Homo sapiens: one gene and its partners. The protein of the gene in region 1 interacts with the protein of each later gene in a pairwise test. Each region holds a gene or a part of one and is shown on either strand. Other genes may lie near its edges.

What was found.
Region 2: the proteins of ADARB1 (region 1) and STOX1 interact in binary tests that used the Homo sapiens proteins (3 or more experiments, as listed by UniProt).
Region 3: the proteins of ADARB1 (region 1) and STAU1 interact in binary tests that used the Homo sapiens proteins (3 or more experiments, as listed by UniProt).

What each region holds. Positions count from the first base shown.
Region 1 is NC_000021.9:45,072,191-45,076,009, reverse strand, and holds the start of ADARB1 (double-stranded RNA-specific editase 1), read right to left. Parts: upstream 1,431-3,819; 5' UTR 1,217-1,430; intron 960-1,216; exon of another isoform or gene 912-959; intron 1-911. UniProt on the Homo sapiens protein: Catalyzes the hydrolytic deamination of adenosine to inosine in double-stranded RNA (dsRNA) referred to as A-to-I RNA editing.
Region 2 is NC_000010.11:68,825,629-68,829,228, forward strand, and holds the start of STOX1 (storkhead-box protein 1), read left to right. Parts: upstream 1-1,902; 5' UTR 1,903-1,995; coding exon 1,996-2,305; intron 2,306-2,348; exon of another isoform or gene 2,349-2,641; intron 2,642-3,600.
Region 3 is NC_000020.11:49,118,588-49,122,406, forward strand, and holds part of STAU1 (double-stranded RNA-binding protein Staufen homolog 1), read right to left. Parts: intron 1,542-3,819; coding exon 1,395-1,541; intron 1-1,394. UniProt on the Homo sapiens protein: Binds double-stranded RNA (regardless of the sequence) and tubulin.

The DNA of each region.
Region 1 (3,819 bases):
CGGCAAAATTTAAGAGGAAACAAAGAGGATTAAATACATATTTGTATTCTCAATTAAAAAAACTACGGTTCTATCATCTTAATTATGGAGTTAAACGTTAAAGAAACAAGTTTGATATCATGCCACTTTTCGTTATACTTCGAGAACGGAATGCAATAATGGTTAGTAAGAAGGAAGTAAAATGCCTGTATCAGAAGTAACAGCCCAAACCTGCTGACCAAAAATATTAACTGGGAACTAAACACCACGGTGCAGATCTCCGACATAGAAACCTGGACAGGAACACGTTTTAGGTTAGGTTTTCCAGCGTGTAAATCGGGACTCCAACACGTTTCAGCGTCCACAGCCCAATCTGACACCTTCCCTCGCACCCATCCACCACGCAATAATTTTCCTTCTGATGTGAACACGTCAAAAGTCACCTCGGGCCCCCAACTGCCCCAGATTGCTCCCGATCGCTGCAGACGCCCGGCACCCGCAGGAACTTCCCTGGCCCGGGCCGCCCGCGGCGCAGAGCATCCCGCGCGGACACTGCGCCCTCGGAAGGACACGCAGGACCGTCCAGGGCGCAGACTCGTCCCCAACGCAGTCTCCACTCCCGTGGCACAGCGTCCCCTCCCAAGGCAGCCTCCCCTGCCCGGGCCCAGCCTCATCCCGGGCGCAGCCTGCCGTCCCCCGGCGCAGCGTCCCATGCCGGGCGGAGCGTCTCCCCAGGGACATAGCCTACCGTCCCCAGGCGCAGCCTTGTTGCCAACGCAGCCTCCCGTTCCCCGGCGCAACCTTGTACCCGGGGCAGCCTCTGGTCCCCGGGCGCAGCCTCGTCCCCAGCGCAGCCTCCGATCTCCAGGGCACACCGTCCCCTCCCCAAAACGCAGTCTCGGTCCCCAGGGCGCAGCCTCGTCCCGGCGCACCTGCCCTCCCCGCGGCGCAGCGCGGCGCATCCCACGCGGACTCGGCGCCCTCGGGAGGGGACGCGGGGCCGCCCGGGCGCAGCTTCCTCCGGGAGCCGAGCGCCGGAGCAGACGGGCGACCCAGGAGGGTGGGTGCGAGGCGGTGCCGCGGCACCCTCGCTTCTCCGCGGGCGCCCTCCGCTCCCGGGACGGCCCGCAGCTCCGGCCCCACCACCAGTCCCTGCCCGGCGCTTACATAAACGCCGCCACCGCGGGGTCCGGAGCCCGCGCCCGCCCGAGCCGCCGCGGCCCCGCGCCGCCCTCACCTCAGCCGCAGCCGCGCCGCGCCTGGTCCTCCGCACGCGCGCCCCACGCTTCGGCCGCAGTCTCGCGCCGGGCGGCGCTCTGCCTCGTTGGTTGTGCGCAGCGGCGCGGCGTGGCCGTGGCCTCGCGCGGCCCGGAGCCCCGGCCGCCAACCTGGCCGCTTGGCCGCCGCTGCCGCCGCCGCCGCCGCCGCCGCCACGGCCGCCTCAGCGCCTCAGCCCCGCCGCCGGCGGCTCCGCCCCCTCCCCGCCCCCGCCGGCCCGCCGGGCGCGCGCACGCCGAGGGGGCGGGGGCGGCGCAGCGACGCCGGACGTGCGCGCGCTGGGGCGCCCGTGTCTGTCGTGGGCAGCCGGAGCTGTGGCACCTCCCTCACGACCACCTGCGGCGGACGGGCGCGGGGCCGTTGGGGCTGGAGCGCGGCCGGAGCTGAGAGACCGCGGCTGGGCGGCTCCGGAGCGTGGGGCGAGAGCGCGGGACCGGCCTGGCGTCGCGGCGCCGCCCGCCCGAGCGCGGCTGAGGAGACTCTGCCCGCCTTCGTTTTGGGGACGGGGTCTCACTGTCGCCCAGACTGGAGCGCGGTGGACCTCCGAGCTCACGCGATCCTGCCGCCTCAGCCTCCCTGGTAGCTGGGACCGCAGGCGCCCGGCGATTGGCGTTTGCGTTTTGCGGAGGTGGCGTCTCGCGGTGCTGCCCAGGCTCCCGGGCCCCCGCGCTCCTCCCTGCAGCGGGCGCTGCCCCCGCCGAGCCCCCGCCGAGCCCCCGCCGAGCCCCCGCCGAGCCCCCGCCGAGCCCCCGCCGAGCCCCCGCCGAGCCACCCCTGCTTCTCCCTCTCCCGGAGTTGCCTGGGACACGCGGGTCCCGCCGGCCCCCTCTCCCCGCCCGTCATCCTCACTGTAGACTCCGGGAGAACCAGGTCGCGGCCCAGGACCCTGGCTGGACACGGTTCCCGCCGTCTCCTGTTTAGTCCGCACTGACACTAGCAGCTGCTCCAGTTACCAACGTTTAGGTGATGGTGGTTTTGTTTGATTTTTTTTGTTTGTTTGTTTGTTTTAGGTTGATAGTAAAAGCATTTTTTTATAGCATATGCAATAGACCTACTCTTCGATTTATCTATATTTACTGACTGTTCCACAGTTATACCAAGAAATGTTTACACAGATGATGATAAGCATATGTAGAAATGCAACGTTTTCACTGACCGGAATAACCAGCTCCAGGCTGCAGTTCTCTGCACGAAGATAAAGTTTGATAGGCAAACTTGGCAGCTCCTGACCGCGGCGACCTGAGCCCAGAGGAGCAGCCGGGGGCGGTGGGCAGAGCCAGGTGTGGACAAGCGGGTGGGTCCCGCACCTGGGTGGGGGAAGCGGCAGGTTCCAGGGTCAAATTGAGGTTGTACTAGCCCTGGCCTCCAAACCTCAGGCGGCCCACTCTGCCCTCGGCCTCTTTCCTCCCTTGTAAAGTGGGGAGTAAGAGACCATCGCAAGCCAGGGATGGGGTGGCGCACACTGTGATCTCAGCCAGTCTGGAGGCTGGGGCTGGGCGGTGGGGGGGTGCGGGTCGCTTGTGTCTCAGAGCTGGAGCTGTGGTGTGCGAGGCCGAGGTCCGCGCCTATAAATGGCCGCTGCGCTCTGGCCCGGGCAACACTGAGACTCCGACTCTGGAAAACAACAAAACTTAAAAGACGAACACAGATGGAAGTTTGGGAGCCTGGTATGCGGTAAGCACTCCGCAGGTGTCAGCCGCCAGCCCGCAGTCCCGGACAGGTCAGGGGAAGGCCCGCGGTATGCAGCAGGCTGCCGGCTTCAGTCACTGCCTGGTGGAAAACAAGCCTGTCTTTGGGGCCAGCCAGCTAACAAGTGAGCCCTTCACCCCATCTGAAGGCGAAGCACCCAAAGGGGCAACCGTGGACGGCTAAATAAAAATCAAGACTCCTGGGACGCCTTCTCGGGACACATTCTTAAAGAGATACGTGCCTGAGGACGTTGTGTGTATTTCTGTGTAACAGGCCACCCCAAACCTCAGAGGGCGAAAACCTCTCTTCACTGCTCATGACTCTGTGGGCCTGCAGCTTAAGCCGGTTCAGCTGGGACGGCTTGCCTCGGCTCCATGGGGTGTCTGCTGGGCCCACTTACAGGCAGGCGCCCCGGGCAGATCCGGGCCACATGTCACCCACCCACCGCAGGCTGGCCGGGCCTCCCTCCCGTGGTGGCTGGGCTCCGTCGGCAGCAAGAAAAAGCAAATCCCCATGGTGCTTCCCTCCATCTCCCCAGGAGGGTGAGATGGCCGGGGCCTGAGTGGACGTGAGGCACCGCACAGGGGACGGGCACGGCAAGCATGGTTCATCGGGGCTGTCACTGCAGAAGTCTTCCACAGGCCTTCGCTGAGGTGCGGGTTGGTGTGGGGAATACAAGGGAACTCCCCAGAATGGAGGCTGCTTGTGCAAGTTTCAACTTGTCCTTTTTCTCCCTCCAGAGCAGCAGAGAGCGGATGGCGCCCAAGGCCGGGACCCTCTGCTGCTCCCACAGGCCTCTCAGGCGGCTCTGCAGGACCAGCCAGCAGCCTCTGATGCTCCCTTCCTATTCCATGGCTTCAGGTGCCATCCTCT
Region 2 (3,600 bases), on another chromosome or scaffold:
TAGTGTTCAATAAATGTTAGCTATTGTTATTATCTATCATTTATTGCGTGCTTACTGGGGGCAGGGTATAAATTATCTCCATGTTTATAGTTTTTATTGAGGACTGATGAGCTGAGGGAGTGGGAAGTCTGGAATGACTCCTAGATTTTGCCAAGCACCTCTGCTCCCTCACAGTACTGTGTTCTGGTACCAAGCATAATGCCCTTCCTCTTCTTCTTCTTTTTCTTTTTTTCCCGAGAGGGAGTCTTGCTCTGTCACCCAGGCTGGAGTGCGGTGGCACCATCTCAGCACACTGCAACCTCCGCCTCCGCGTTTAAGCAATTCTTCTGCCTCAGCCTCCCTGAGTAGCTGGGATTACAGGCGCGTGCCACCACATCCGGCTAATTTTTGTATTTTTAGTAGAGATGGAGTTTTACCTTGTAGGTCAGGCCGGTCTCGATCTCCTGACCTCGTGATCCGCCCACCTCGGCCTCCCAAAGTGCTGGGATTACAGGCATGAGCCACCGCGCCTGGCCCCTTCCTCTTCTTTTAACATGTTGTATTTTCAAATGGGTTTTTTTCTCAAGGAGCCCTCCCGCTGGGCCTCAGTCTGGGTCCTCAGTCTGAATCGGCCTTCACTGCTTTGAGGCACAGGTCACATTCTACCGCCACGCATCACAAGCTCTCCCTTTGCCTCTGGGGCAGGACGGTGTCCGTCTTTTCAGAATGTCCACATCTAACCCAGGGCAGAATCCTACGATATCACCACAGCGCCACACCAATCAGGGTGGCACCTCTCCACTCTGCTTTCCTCAGCACTCAAGAGTATGGGATATCCCCGGGGTAGGACCAGATCCTACAACTTCAGAAAGTCATGGATGAGGCCGGCCGGGCGCCGTGGCTCACGCCTGTAATCCCAGAACTTTGGGAGGCGGAGGCGGGCGGATCACGAGGTCAGGAGATCGAGACCATCCTGGCTAACACCATGAAACCCCGTCTCTACTAAAAATACAAAAAATTAGCCGGGCGTGGTGGCGGGCACCTGTAGTCCCAGCTGCTCGGGAGGCTGAGGCAGGAGAATGACGTGAACCAGGTAAGCGGACCGTGCAGTGAGCCGAGATCGCGCCACTGCACTCCAGCCTGGGCGACAGAGTGAGACTCCGCCTCAAAAAAAAAAAAAAAGAAAGTCATGGATGAAAGGGTCCTTAGTTTATTATCCTGTGAAATAGTAGCTGGGACATTTCTGAGGCCCAGAGAAGGGAAATAACTTGAATGAACAGGTTGGGAGCAGGCCAGGCGATGTGGCGGGCACCTGTAGTCCCAACTCGGGAGGCTGAGATCAGAGGATCGCTTGAGCCCAGAACTCAGTGAATAGCCACTGCACTCCAGCCTGGGCAACACAGCGAGACCTCGACTCAAAAAACAAAAATAGAAACAAACAACTAGCTTAGGCGCAGAACTGAGACTCAAACCTAGGTTTCCTGCTCAACCCCCACACCTCCCAGGCCCCCGCTGACACCCTCAGGCTGTTCCTCGTGGTTGCTAACTTGGAACGGCCCCAAAGCCAGGTCGAAGGCGAGTCTCCCCGCCCTGGGGACTCCTGGCGCTGCAGTTCGCACGGCGGATGGACGCAGTCAGGTTCTCCAGGGAGCTGCGAGGAGCCCCAGGACTTGGAAAAACCCCAGAGCGCGCCCCTGGGGGAAGGGGAGCTCGGGACCTCGAGGCGGCTGGAAGTCGAGGGCATCGCCAGGGGGCCGAGTTGGGCCCGGGTGTGGAGAACGAAGCCGAACGCTGGGCTCTGGATTCTCCTCCAGAGCGCTCCGCCGGCCTAAGCACGGCCGCCCCACCCCCGGCCCGCCAGGCGCAGTCGGCCCCGCCCCCTGGAGCTCCGTTCCCCCGGCAGCCAGCGCCGCGGACCCGCGCGCAGTCGGCCGATCCTCCCGCCGAGCGAGCGGCGTCGTAGCCGCCGCGCTCGCCGAGGCCCTGCGTTGCGGGCTCCCGGCCGCCGGCGAAAGCATGGCCCGGCCCGTGCAGCTGGCGCCGGGCTCGCTGGCGCTAGTGCTGTGCCGGCTGGAGGCGCAGAAGGCGGCGGGGGCCGCGGAGGAGCCTGGTGGGCGCGCGGTGTTCCGCGCTTTCCGTCGCGCCAACGCGCGCTGCTTCTGGAACGCGCGGCTGGCGCGCGCCGCCTCGCGGCTGGCCTTCCAGGGCTGGCTGCGGCGGGGGGTGCTGCTGGTGCGCGCGCCCCCCGCCTGCCTGCAGGTGCTGCGCGATGCCTGGCGGCGCCGGGCCCTGCGGCCGCCGCGCGGCTTCCGCATCAGGGCGGTGGGTGAGTGCGGGACCCGGAGGGGAGGGGCGTCCCGGCCCGTGCAGCTGGCGCCGGGCTCGCTGGCGCTAGTGCTGTGCCGGCTGGAGGCGCAGAAGGCGGCGGGGGCCGCGGAGGAGCCTGGTGGGCGCGCGGTGTTCCGCGCTTTCCGTCGCGCCAACGCGCGCTGCTTCTGGAACGCGCGGCTGGCGCGCGCCGCCTCGCGGCTGGCCTTCCAGGGCTGGCTGCGGCGGGGGGTGCTGCTGGTGCGCGCGCCCCCCGCCTGCCTGCAGGTGCTGCGCGATGCCTGGCGGCGCCGGGCCCTGCGGCCGCCGCGCGGCTTCCGCATCAGGGCGGTGGGTGAGTGCGGGACCCGGAGGGGAGGGGCGTCCCGCGCCAGCTGTGAGCGCGGAGCTCCGCGCTGCAGGGGCGAGCGCGGCCCCGTCTTCTGCCACAGAGGCTAGGCGCTGCTCTGAGGGCCCGGGGGCTGCGGTTGGGCGGCCGGTCCGGGGGGCCAAGACGCCCCGGAGACGTTCCCTCCCGCTAGGACACTGCAGCTATAGTCCCCAAGGTGTGCCTGGCCGCTGCTAGTACTGGCTCCGGGCTGAGTCCGTTCCTCAACTCTTAAAGCCCGTGGAGTGCACAGAAGGAACTTTCTGCTTAGAAAAGTGATGCTCTGGATAGAGAGGCTTTGGGCTAGGGGCCACTGTCTAGGCTCCACCGGGGCGGTTAGGAAGGGTACCCCAGGGGAATGGCCAGAGTTTACCATATCTGGCAGCTTTATTATTATTATTTTTTGAACTACAGATCTGCAGCGAACGGCATTCTGGTTTTCATGTTCTGCAGTGTGGTGGTCTTGGGTCGGGACCTAGCAGCTTTGGGGTCGTTAACTTCTTGGGGAAAACAAGTAGCGTCTCATCCCTTTAGCTGAATAGACAGGATTCCACCTTCCCAGTCTTTTCAAACTTAACTGTTTGTTAGACAACAGCAGCTTTTTGCCTTTTTTCATAAAATAGCTTCTCATTTGAGAAACTAAACCACCGCACCCGTGAGTGGTCTCTGACTCTGGGCACTAAACCCAGGCAGGTGTGTCAGCTCCCTGTAACAACCTTGTTCTTGTCTGCATTTATGTGAGGCTGCAAGGGCCATTTGATGGTGTGTTGACAAGTCACCAGTTGTTCCGCGCTTAATTTTCATTCTTACCAAGGAACCCCTCTGTATTAGTCCATAAATCATCCTCTTCCATCCGAGGAGAAGGAGTCGCAAATAAAAAACATTTGTTTGGCCAGGCGCGGTGGCGCTCGCCTGTAATCCCAGCA
Region 3 (3,819 bases), on another chromosome or scaffold:
TTCTCCTAATGCACCCTCCTGCCCACACCCCTGCCCACAAAGAGCATCTAACAAAGTGCACTAACCTGTGAATGCTGAGCTGCACTCTGCACCCACAGGAAGACGGGAAGCATTTAACCAGAAAGAGCAGAGATGCTAGACGGTAGAGCCCACCAAGGTGGGGAAAGAAGCTTTCAGACTGAAGCTAAACAAATAAATCAAGAATATTTCCTGGAGCTGATATCCAATTAAAAAATAAGGTGACATTCCAAAATTAACACCCTTACGGGGAAAATGTTATTACCTAAGAATTTTGTCTAACACAACATCACCTTTCTAAGAAGTAACAAAGGACACTCTGAATGTCCTACAAGATTCTGAAATGAAAAACCCTAAAGCCAAGTCTAAGATCTATACTGGTGGTATCTGGGGTCCCAGTCAGTTATTAACTGGCCATGACTGATGCTGTTTCTGTCAATATGACTGGCAGACATGAATGAATCAGGCCTGATTTCAAGTTTATCTCACCAGGACCATTCAGTGATGGGAAAGAAGAAGGTCAGCCATGGCTTTTGCTGAGGTCCTGCTTACCACTTCTGGCAGACACGAATTTTTCTTTTTACGTTCCTTTTTTGTTGTTGTTGAGACAGGGTCTGTCGCCCAGGCTGAGTGCAGTGGCATGATCACAGCTCACTGCAGCCTTGACCTTCCAAGGCTCAATCCTCCCATCTCAGCCTTGTAGCTCGGGCTACAGGTACAAGCCACCATACCTGGCTGATATTTTAATTTTTTGTAGAGACAGGGTTTCATCATGTTGCTCAGACTGGTCTTGAACTCCTGGATTCAAGGCCTCAGCCTCCCAAATTACAAGTTTGAGCCACCACACCTGGCCGTGAATTTTTCAACAGGGGATTATTTTCATCTGATGTTTAACTCACATAGGAAAAAAGAAATCCCAAACCTAAACTTTGGATTTGGCCTGTCTCTACTGTCACACTGTCTTATTTTGCCAGAAAAATCAAAGCCTATTCCACAATTAACGAAAGCCTAACAGTTATAAATCTTTCACACAGGCTTCATTTCTAGAGTGCAAATCACACTTAGTAATTTCAGTCCTAATTACCCTTCATCCTCATCCTACAAATAGAGAGGAGCAAGCTGCCCTCCACAAAGCGTCCCCAGACCACAAAGATACTGACACAATCAACGATCTAACCCAGAGCCTCCTGGGGCCAGTGGACATGCGAGGCCCCTCTGAGCACATTATGGTCCAAATGGATGAGACACTCCTCAGCAGGACTCCTTGAACTGTCAGGCAGATAAAGCCTTGCCTTGAAGCCTGCCCCTGGAGGTGCCCCAGTTCCCTAGGGTGAGGCGAGAGACCATCTTGCAATCAGAGAGCCCACAGCACTCACCTTCTCCTCTGACTTGAGTGCGGGTTTGGTGGGCTGCGCCTGCGGGACTTTGAAACCAAGGATCTCCAGCATGTTCTCGGCTGCATTGCGCTTGGCCACCTTCTTGTTGGTGCCCGTTCCTTCTGCAGTGTGGTTTCCAACCTTCACCTGCACAAAGAAGTCAAAACACAGACCAGTGCTTAAACCTTCAGAATAACAACCAGGCAGGAATTGGTGTGTCAGCAAAATAACCAACTATGGTCAGAAGCAAGATAACAGCAGTGCCCCGAACCTGGCCTCCTTGTCTCTGAGAGCTAATTATTAAATAGTCAGGAGTTTGGGAAGCTGGCTGTTAAACACAGCCAGTATTAAACATTTAATTATATAAGCTGATAATTATTTTAACAGAGGTAATTTTTGACTGCATTTTATAATCATCTGTGTTCTGAGGGTCTGCCCAGCTATTGCATTTGTACAATGGAAACAGTCTGTGATGGTGAACTACTGTACATCTATTCCCAGCATTGCCATTGGAAGTATCACTTTGAGAGCTTGAAATCAGCCATGGTGGGACTATTTATACCACAGAAATATACAAATGCTACGTATCAAAGATCATAAGCTGTTTATTGTCTAACTCTAAACCTACAATGATGAAAAGGTTAATAAAGCAGGTTAATCTTAAAAGCATGAGAAGTCTGCAGCCATTACATTGTAACTAGCACAAAAAACTGAAATATCTTCCCGTCTTTGAAAATTATCTAATTTTGCAGAGAAGCCACTCATATCATTTACAAATGAGTGATGTTACATGTCTTCATTGTTTCACTTTTTCTTTTTTCTTTTTTGGGATAGACAGGGTCTCACTTCTTCACCCAGGATGGAGTGCAATGGCATGATCTCAGCTCACTGCAACCTCCACTTCCCAGGTTCAAGCGATTCTCCTGCCTCAGCCACCCGAGTAGCTGGGATTACAGGCGTGTGCCACCATGCCTGGCTAACTTTTCTATTTTTAGCAGAAATGAGGGTTCACCATGTTGGTCAGGCTGGTCTCGAACCCCTGACCTCAAGTGATCCGTCATGCTGGGATTACAGGCGTAAGCCATCAAGCCCAGCCTGTTTTACTTTCATCTTACCTATTAACATAAATAAAAAACATCAACCAGCCGGGCGTGGTGGCTCACGCCTGTAATCCCAGCACTTTGGGAGGCTGAGGTGGGTGGATCACCTGAGGTCAGGAGTTCGAGACCAGTCTGGCCAACATGGTGAAACCCCATCTCTACTAAAAATACAAAAAGTAGCTGGGCGTGATGGTGGGCACCCGTGAATCCCAGCTACTCGGGAGGCTGAGGCAGGAGAATCACTTGAACCTGGGAGGCAGAGGTTGCAGTGAGCCGAGATCACACCACTGCCCTGCAGCCTGGACAACAGAGCAAGTTGACTCCATTCCCCTCTACCCCAAAAAAAATGTATCTCAACCAGTATTCATGCTACAACCAAAATCTCAAATCTACAGTATGTATTTGTCAGTGACATGAGCAACACCTTTGCTGAACTGGATAGTAATAAACCATTATGTGCTGTCTGATTTTATAACACTATCGTTGGTAACTGTCACACTGAAATATGTATGAAATTTACAATAAAGTGTATATTATTTATAAATTGTACTACACATCCTTTCTGTCAGTAAAATTTATAAAACACACATATATGTCAGTATAATTTATAACACACATCCTTTGTGTCAGTAAAATTTATAACACACATGTATATAACACCCATGTATATATCTATAACATACATATTCAGCTCATTCCACCAAACCACCCTCCCCGAAGAAGAGCTGGTTGTTAAACATGTTCCAGCACATCACTACTTACAACCCCCTTCCAAGTTGATTGTAATAACAGGCACCTGGCTGCTAAAACCAAAAGCCCAGGTCACAAGACTCAGAGAGTCAAAGAAACCATTCCCTGGCCTGGGACTAAATTCCAACCTGGCCATCTACCAGCCATTTCATCTTGGGCAAACTACTGATCCTCTCAGCAAACTGCAACTTCCTTTTGTGGAATGAAAGGATCATTCTTTTCCTACCTTCTGACTGCATAGGTAAAATATACGAGGTCAACTTTCTAAGTTATAAATTGCTATACAAGAGATAAGGATTCTGTCTTACATCAGAAAGCACTTAAATTCAAATCACAATTAAGTTAAGCTGCCTATGTGAAATGACCACTTAGCTTTGAACTTAATCAGCTAAGTACAAAGAAATGTTCCATACTAATCTGAAGTGTCACCCAATCTAAGGAAGAGGTAACCCTAGATTCCAGACTCCATAAGAATTAGGAGGAAGAGGAACAGATCTCTTGATACTACTTACAAAATTTACCTTTGGTAAAGAGCAATGTCATAAACCTTCAAGGAGATGTAATGAAGAAAAACT